Regions from separate parts of the Homo sapiens genome. Here region 1 is linked to region 2. The links come from fine-mapping of genetic effects on gene expression. A gene starts in region 2. The other region holds a variant in brackets. All regions are shown on one strand. Distances are between the middles of the regions.

Region 1 (4,387 bases), 30 kb before region 2:
CAAATAAAGCTCGTACATATTCAAGGTGCACAGCATGATGTCTTGGTACATGTCACGTGGTGAAATGATTACCACAGTCAAATCAATTAACACACACATCACCTCATGTGGTTACCTGTGTGTGTGTGCATGTGTCTGTGTGTGCGGTGACAACATGTAAGATCTACTCAGTAAATTTTATGTCCATGATATGTTATTAACCAGAGTCTCCATGCTGTGCTTCAGGTCTCCAGAACTACTTATCTTATAGCTGAAGCTTTGTACTCCTCCTCACCCAGCCCCTGACTTTTTTAGATTCCATATATAAGTTGGCTCATGCAGTATTATTTGTCTTTCTGTGCCTGGCTTATTTCACTTAGCATAATGTCCTCTGGGTTCATCCATGTTGTTGACATGGTTTCCTTCTTTTTTAGACCTGAATAATTTTCATTATTATAGTGTAGTATAGCATGTAACACTAATATCTATACCACGTTTTCTTTATTCATTCACTGATGGACATTTAGGTTGTTTCTGTATCTCAGCTATTATGAATAGTGCTGTAATTAACATGGGAGTGCAAGTATCTCTTTATGACAGTGATTTTATTTCCATTGGGCATACTCAGAAGTGAGATGGCTGGATCAACAAAATTAAAAGGCAACCTATGGATGGGTGAAAACATTTGCAAACCAAACATCTGGTAAGGGGTTAATACCCAAAATATATAAGAGCTCCTACAACTTATTAGCAAAAAACAAAACCAAAACAAGAACCAAATAACCTAACTTTAAAAATAGACAAAGGACCTAAATAGGCATTTCTCCCAAGAAGGCATACATATGGCCAACAGGCATATGAATAGGTGTTCAACATTACTAATCTAGGAGGGTCGGTAGGGTGGCTCATGCCTCTAATCCCAGAGCCTAAGGTGGGAGGATTGCTAGAGCCCAGGCTTTGGAGACCAGCCTGGGCAACATAGGAAGACTCCGTCTGTACAAAAAATTTTTAAAAATCAGCGGGGCGTGGTCGTTCCTGAGGTCCCATCTAGTCCAGAGGCTGAGGCGGGAGTATCCCTCGAGCCCGGGAAGTCTAGGTTGCAGTGAGCCGAGATTGCACCACTGCACTCCAGCCTGGGCCACAGAGGGAGACCCTGTCGCAAAAAATAAATAAATAAATAAAATTCAGGAAAATGCAAATCAGAATCAGAATGAAATGTCTCCGAACACCTGTTAGAATGGCTAATATCAAAAAGACAAGAGACAACAAGTGTTGGTCACGATGTGGAGAAAAGGGACCCTTCGCACGCTGTTGAGGGGAATGTAAACTGGTGCAGCCATCACGGAAAATAGGACGGAGGTTCCTCCAAAAACTCAAAACAAGGTCCAGTCTTTCTGAGGCCCCCTTCTGCTTGCCTGTGACCACCCTTCTTCCAACCCTCCAGTTCCAGGTCCCCTCTGCTGCCCTTAGACGCGGCGTCTTCGCACTCTGGGCCTTACCGCGGCTGCTCCTCCAGGTTTGCTCTCCAACTGCAGCCTTCCCTGTCCTACGCGACCACCGGCCTCCTGGCGCCCTCTGCCTATAGTGAACACCCCTCCAACACCGTGCCATCACCTCACGTTTACTCTCACCTCCTCCTCCACTAAATTGCAAGCTCCAGGGAGGCATGTTTTCATCTGATGCGTTCACCCCAAGTACTAACAGCTATGCCTGGCACATAGTAGATGCTAAATGGATATTTGATGAACTTAAAAAAAAAATTCAAAGGATTCCTTTCCTCTCTGGTCAATGGAAGACGGAGAAGGAATGAAATTGAACTTCAATAGCTTAACAAAGGGCGGGAGGGTGGTGTGTTGACCGCCCCCCCAACCCCCCAACGCTGGGCCCCAACCCACCCCGCCCCGCCCCCACGGGATGCTTTTCTACAAGGGTGAGAGGAGCTGACTCCGGTTTGGACTGGAAGAAAGTTTCCAAGAAAATCAAATTAGTGGCCCAAACACATACCCCTTCTCCGCCCCGCGCAGTCTCTGAGATGCGTCCCAGCAATTGCCCAGGGACTTGGAGGGAGCGGGCATTTTCAGGCTGCACAGAGGCCATCTGGGGAGAAGGTGTGCGGCTGTTTTGCTGAAATGTAAAAAGAGATGTCCTTTGGAGCCCGGGACGCCGTTTCCGGCTGGCTACCCGAGGTTGCGTGCAAGGGG[CGGGT/T]CCTTAGGCATGAAAATGACCCTCCCGGCCGCAACGGCGCACAGGCCCAGGGCCGCTGAGCCCCTCCAAGCCGGGATTCGTTTTGGAGACCTGCGCGATGGAGCGGACAGCGGGACTGGGGGGCGCCGCAGTGCAGGGTGTACAGCTGCAGAGAAGCCGGGGATACAGGGGTGCGGGGCGCAGGGATAACGGGCGCAGGGGACGGTCACGGGTGCTTTCTAGTGGGTTGTGCAGGCTCAGGTTCCCAGCGCTGGGTGGTTGCGACTCTGCATAAAACGCTAAGCTTTTGAGGCCCTTATTCAAGCTCGGGGACGTCTCCCAGTTGGTCAGTTCAAAACCTCTGGGCCAGGTTGCGTTGGTGGCAGATTCCGCCCGCTAAGTCTCCGCACGCTGCCGCGGGTCTGCTCCTCCCCCGGGGTCAGAACCTCTGACGCTCTCCTGCTTTTACACGCGTTAAGTCACTGGTTTCTTGCAGCATCACGTGTTCCCTAGATACATGGGCTGAGGCTTATTCTTCCTGAAAGTGAGGGTTTTTTCCTTTGGGCTTTCCAGAGCCAGCCCGCGTGGAGAGTGACGAGTGACAGGCGCCTTTGTTCCGGGCTTGCATGGGTGGGACGCGCCCCCTCCTCAGCACTCAGCCCGGCGAGCCTGGCCCTCCCGTCGCCCCTTCTTAAGTGCATTTGTCCCGGGCTCTCGATTTTGTTTACTCTTTCCTGCTTACACAGGTACACACACACACCCAGACCTAAACTTTATATAAACAGACATGAACTTAAAGAAACAAAATCCCCCTATGTGTCAACGCGCTCCTTTTTAACAAAATCAACAAAAATTCAACACAATGTTATTTCCATCCTTTTGTTGTCTTATTAGAAACGTGTATGTTAACTTTCCTCCTTTTATAAATGGGGCATGTTCTAATTAACCATTTGTATGGTTGTTTTTAGTGCTCAAATGGTCACATTGCAGCCCCGGGGAGGTATTTTCAAAACGCTGCTCTGTCATTTTAGGATCACCCTGATTGTTGGAAGCACCTTTGCTTTTGTTTTTGTTTTGTTTTTGTTTTGCTGAGACGGGGTCTAGCTCTGCCGCCTAATCAGGCTCACTGTGGCTTCAAAACTCCTGGCTCAAGCAATCCTCCCGCCTCAGCCTCCCAAGTAGCTGGTACTACAGGTGAGTACCACAGCGCCTAATTGGTTTTTTGTTTTGTGTGTGTGTGCGTGTTTTTGGTTTTTTTTGTTTGTTTGTTTTTGTTTTTGTTTTGTTTTGTTTTGTAGGCAGGTTCTCCCTATATTGCCCAGGATGGCCTTGAACTCTAACCTCGGCCTCCCAAAGTGCTGGGATTACAGGTGTGAGCCACTGGCACCCGGCTCATCTTTGCTTTCTGACAGCAAAAAGTTATTTCAGACCTATCATGGGTGTTTTGTTTTGTTTTGAATTTTTGTTTTTTTGACTCCAGATATGGACTTAACTGCACTCCAAGGAGTTTATGTTGCTCTTCATGAAAATTAGTATTATAGACAAAATTGAAGCTGGGAATCAGCTACTTTTGTCTCTCATTTTCACTGTTCTCTTTTTTTTTTAGATGGAGTCTCACCCTGTCCCCCAGGCTGGAGTGCAATGGTGCGATCTCGGCTCACTGCAACCTCTGCCTCCTGGGTTCAAGCGATTCTCCTGCCTCAGCCTCCCAAGTAGCTGGGAGTACAGGCGCTGCGTCACCATGCCTGGCTAATTTTTTGTATCTTTAGTAGAGATGGGGTTTCACCATGTTGGCCGGGCTGGTCTCGAATCCCTGACCTTGTGATCTGCCCGCCTTGGCCTCCCAAAGTGCTGGGATTACAGGCATGAGCCACCACGCCCGGCCACTGTTCTCTTTTTTTAATGATGGTGTAGCTGTCTACCCTGTGGAGATATATTGATCTTCAAAATCACCGTGATAGTACAGTTATTATGGAAAACATTATTAAATTCAAAATAGAATTCCCAAACGATATAGCAACCCCACTGCTGGGGATATATCTAAAGGAAATGAAATCCGTATCCAGAAGAGAGATCTGCACCATGTTCACTGCAGCACCATTTACAATAACCAAGACATGGAGTTAACCTAAGTATCCATTGTCGGATGAATGAGTAAAGAAAATATGGTACATATGTACAATGAAATACTATTCCGGCCTTAAAACATAATGAAATTCCCTCA
Region 2 (4,387 bases):
AACTGCTTAGAGCAAACCTGCGTCCCATTCTATTCAAAGTCATATCTCTGCTCACTGAGATAAATGTATATCTGATTGCCTCTTTTGGAAAGGCTAATCAGAAACTCAAAAGAATGCAAACATTTGTCTCTTATCTACCTATGACCTGGAAGCCCCCTCCCCACTTCCAGTTGTCCCGCCTTTCTGGATGGAACCAATGTTCATCTTACATATATTGATCGATGTCTCATGTCTCCCTAAAATGTATAAAACCAAGCTGTGCTCGGACCACCTTGGGCACATGGCTGTGTCATGGGCGTGTGTCCTTAACTTTGGCAAAATAAACTTCCTAATTGACTTAAACTAGCCTCAGATATTCTGGGTTCACAAGGGTAATTCACTTAATCGGCCAGTGTGCGCAGCCAGCCCGCACCTGACAGCACACAGACCCCTTTGTGTGTGCGAGTGATGAGAGACCACAGAAGAAACACTCTACCGAGTGAGCCCAGGGAAAGCCAGCCATCTATGCCTGTGGCCAGCTGTCTACACCCGCACACCCAGGAGATTGCAGAATGGTGCCTCTTAGCCTTCAAGGCCCTGTTTTCCTGCCTGTCTGCACCCCCTGTGTGGGCCAAGCCTTAGTTTCTTCATCTGTCCTCTCTCTCCAATCCCAGGACTCTGACTCAGGGCACGCAGGCCTCTGGCTCCTGTTCCTGAAAGCAGGAGATGAACCCTCCATGTGAAAGGTGCATCCCTCTACTGGAGGATGAAGCGTGATGACTAGGCGTGGGGACTCAAGGCCAGGAGAAATGGCCACCAGTCAGGACCTGGGCAGGGCTGGGGGCGGCATTTTGGCTGAAACCGTAAGAGACTTTTAAACCAGAGCAACTCCATCTTGTATAGAGGCTGGGTAAAATAATTCTGAGACCTGCTGGGCTGCATTCCCCAGAGGTTAGACATTCCAAGTCACAGGATGGGATAGGAGGTTGGCACAAGATACACGTCATAAAGACCTTGCTGATGAAACAGTATGTGGTGAAGAGGCCAGCAAAATCCCACCAAAACCTAGATGGCGACCAGAATAACCTCTGGTTATCATGACTGCTCATTATATGCTAATTTTAATACGTTAGCATGCTATGAGATACCCTCACCAGTGCCACAACAGTTTACAGATGCCAAGACAAGGTCACAGTTACCCTATATGGTCTAAGAAGGGGAGGAGCCCTCAGTTTCTGGAATTGCCCTTCCTTTTCTGGGAAACTCATGAATACCCCACCCCTTATTTAGCATATAATCAGTAAATAGCCATAAAAATGGGCAACCTGTAGCCCTGGGGGCTGGTCTGCCCATGGAGTAGCCACTCTTTATTCCTTTACTTTCTTAATAAACTTGCTTTCACTTTACTCTATGGATTTGCCCCGAATTCTTTCTTGCCCAAGATCCAAAACCCTCTCTTGGGGTCTGGATCAGGACCTGTTTCTGGTAACAAAACCACCTGGGGTGTCGGCAAGACCCACCCCGTCCCGCCTGGTTCTAGGGGACCTGACCTGCCAGGTGGTCCCTCCAAACTGGTCCGCCCACAGGATTGGGACGCCCCTCCCTGTACCCTCAGCCTGATGCTGACTGCCAACCATGTGGGCAGACCTGGCGGCTGACTGGCTGCTCCTGGGGACCCCCTTCATAGCTTCTCAACAGGCACTCGCTCCTGCTGCCTCGCCCCCACCCCAGCCCACACAAACTCCTCTCCATCCCCTACCCCGACCAACTTAGCCCCTCACCTAACCCTCCAGCCTGGGGCTCGCGTGCCCTCCCGCAGCCCCAACCCCAGGTTGAGAAGCCTCTTCCAATCCCACTCCCCCCACCCTGACGCTCGCCTGCCCGCCCCTAGCCCCACCAGCTGTCCCCATTCCACTCCCCACCCCCAAGTAACCCCCCAACTCCCCACCCTCCACACTCCCTTAACCTCCCCTAAAAGTCCCACCCCAGGCCAACAAGACTCCTCCCTTCGCTGGGCTGTGGACCACATCCTCCCCACCGCCCAGTCAGCACCCGCTGCGCCTGTCCCCGGCTCGTCCAGAGCCTTCCACCCCCTGCCGCCTTCCTTCCCCAAGCCACCCCCAACCTCTCCTAAGAGGCGCCGCCCCAGTCCCGGCCGCCGAACACTCCCTCGCCCAGCATTCCCCTCCCCCGCCGCCCCCCAGCCCCCGCTGACGCCACAAAGTCCCTAGGCCTCCCGACCCCAGGTCCCCACGCCCCGGGCCGGGCCGCAGCCTCCTGGGCTTCGTGGGGGCAGACCCAGCCTTTCCCGGCAGCGAGCGCTCGGCCAGGTGCACTAGGCGCTGTGCGGGCCCCCCTTCCCCGCGGTGAGTAGCCCCCACCCCGCCGCCTAGGCTACCCTCCTGTGGCGCCTGGGCCACGACCTAAGCCTAACCCGGTCCTCCTCGCCCTCCAACGCCCGGCCTTCCCGCCTCCGCCGGCCGCCGCGTCCCTGGAGGGGCTAGCGCGCTTCAACAAGGTAACTCTACCGGGACCCTAGCGGACCAGAGCGGGAAGGACAGCCATCCCGGCAGCCAGAGCCAGAGCCCCAGGCCCGCTGCCGCTGTCCCTGCCCGGCTTCGGTCAGGGTGGGCTGGGTGCCTCCGTTAGGGCTCTTGGGGGGAGTCGGAGGGCTGGCGCCGGGTGGTTGGCGTGCAGAAAGCTCCGAGAAACTGGACGTGGGACAGAGCCGGGGAAGTCTGAGACCCCTAGACGCCCTCGCTTTAGGGGATGGCAGAACGGAAGGGGAGAATCGTGCTTGCAGTGTAGACGCGATTTTCAACTCCTTCTGCAACTCGGTCCCCATAGCAACCCCGTGGCGTAGGCGAAAGTCTGTAGATCTCCACTGCGTGGGGTCGCGAGTGTTGAGATTGCAGGGGGCATCTATGTGCATGCTTGTGTGCCTGTGCGTGTGTGCGCGCGTGTACCTGTGTGTACATGCATGTATGTTTACCGATATGTGCATCTGTGCCTGTGTGTGCTGTGTTTGTGGATCAGTGTTTCTGTGCGTACATGTTTGTATTTGTGTGGTGTGTATGCGTGGGTATGCGTGTGTGCACATGCACGTTTGTATACATACATGGGTATGTGTATGGGTGTTCGTCTGTGCGTACATGCACACGCGTGTTTTTTCTGAACCCCACCTCACTACCGAATGGAAGAGAGCTTTTTTCCTCTGATAGCCCATCCCTTCTTCCTTTGGTGTACGGGGTTTTGTTAAAGAAAAAATTCTGACATTTGAAAGGCTCTTTAGTCAGGCTACTTGCAATGGGAGAGTTGCGCCAGCAAAGACAGCTGGGGATGTATGGGGGAGTTGGAGTGGGGATCTGGGTGGGGTCAGTGGATGGAAAGTGATTAAGGGAAGGCTCCAAGGGTAGGGGCTTCTCCCTAAGCTGACCTAGCAGGCTTCTCCAGAAAGGCAGGTTGAAGGCCTAGCCGGCAACGGTCTGTCGGGGAGGAGGAGCTGATGAGATGTGGAGCTGGGGGTAGCCAGCAGCAGGCGGAAGTGGACGGGTAGGGTCCAGGCCCAGTGGAGAGGAGAGGCGGAGGGGCCTGCAGAGCATTGGTCAGGGAGGGTCTGTGTAGTTTCTGGGGAGGCATCTGTGTCTGTTGTTGACAAGGCTAAAAATGATGACTCTGGACTCTCTAACTGGACTGCAGTCCTAGCCCTCCTCTGTAAAGGGAGGCTGTACAGGACGGTTGCACACTGCCGGCGCCCAGATCATCGGGCTGCTCCCTCCAACTCTCTCCAGAGTCCCTCAAGCGGGAACCTGCCTCGTGTCTCCCAGGAGCCATGGAGGCTGTGGAACTCGCCAGAAAACTGCAGGAGGAAGCTACGTGCTCCATCTGTCTGGATTACTTCACAGACCCTGTGATGACCACCTGTGGCCACAACTTCTGCCGAGCCTGCATCCAGCTGAGCTGGGAAAAGGCGAGGGGCAAGAAGGGGAGGCGGAAGCGGAAGGGCTCCTTCCCCTGCCCCGAGTGCAGAGAGATGTCCCCGCAGAGGAACCTGCTGCCCAACCGGCTGCTGACCAAGGTGGCCGAGATGGCGCAGCAGCATCCTGGTCTGCAGAAGCAAGACCTGTGCCAGGAGCACCACGAGCCCCTCAAGCTTTTCTGCCAGAAGGACCAGAGCCCCATCTGTGTGGTGTGCAGGGAGTCCCGGGAGCACCGGCTGCACAGGGTGCTGCCCGCCGAGGAGGCAGTGCAGGGGTACAAGGTAGGCCACATCGGGGCCCAGGTCAAGGGGCCGGGGAGGAGGCATCCAGGGGGACAAGGTGACCCAGATCATGGGGGAGGGAGGAGGTGTCCAGGGACAAAGTGGCCCGAGTCAGGGGCTGGGGAGGAGGCATCCAGGGGACAAGGT

Direction of the effects. Positions count from the first base shown, and alleles are read on the strand shown. Sizes are in standard deviations (SD) of each study's normalised expression.
For the expression in esophagus muscle of the gene that starts at base 2,023 in region 2, allele CGGGT in region 1 goes with a higher level than allele T (small effect, 0.21 SD a copy in GTEx).

What was found. PIP is the estimated chance that this variant, and not a neighbour inherited with it, causes the effect.
Region 1: its variant is fine-mapped to the expression of TRIM17 in esophagus muscle (GTEx, PIP 0.94).

The regions. Positions count from the first base shown.
Region 1 is chr1:228,444,175-228,448,561 of GRCh38, reverse strand. It overlaps LOC124904538 (a long non-coding RNA gene), which reads left to right and starts at 3,530. Exons shown (of 2, transcript XR_007066919.1): 1 at 3,530-4,387. The variant CGGGT/T (reference allele first, on the strand shown) is at 2,181.
Region 2 is chr1:228,414,497-228,418,883 of GRCh38, reverse strand. TRIM17 (tripartite motif containing 17) reads left to right here and starts at 2,023. Exons shown (of 7, transcript NM_016102.4): 1 at 2,023-2,345; 2 at 3,771-4,240. The coding sequence starts at 3,812. RefSeq lists a silencer at 2,455-2,564.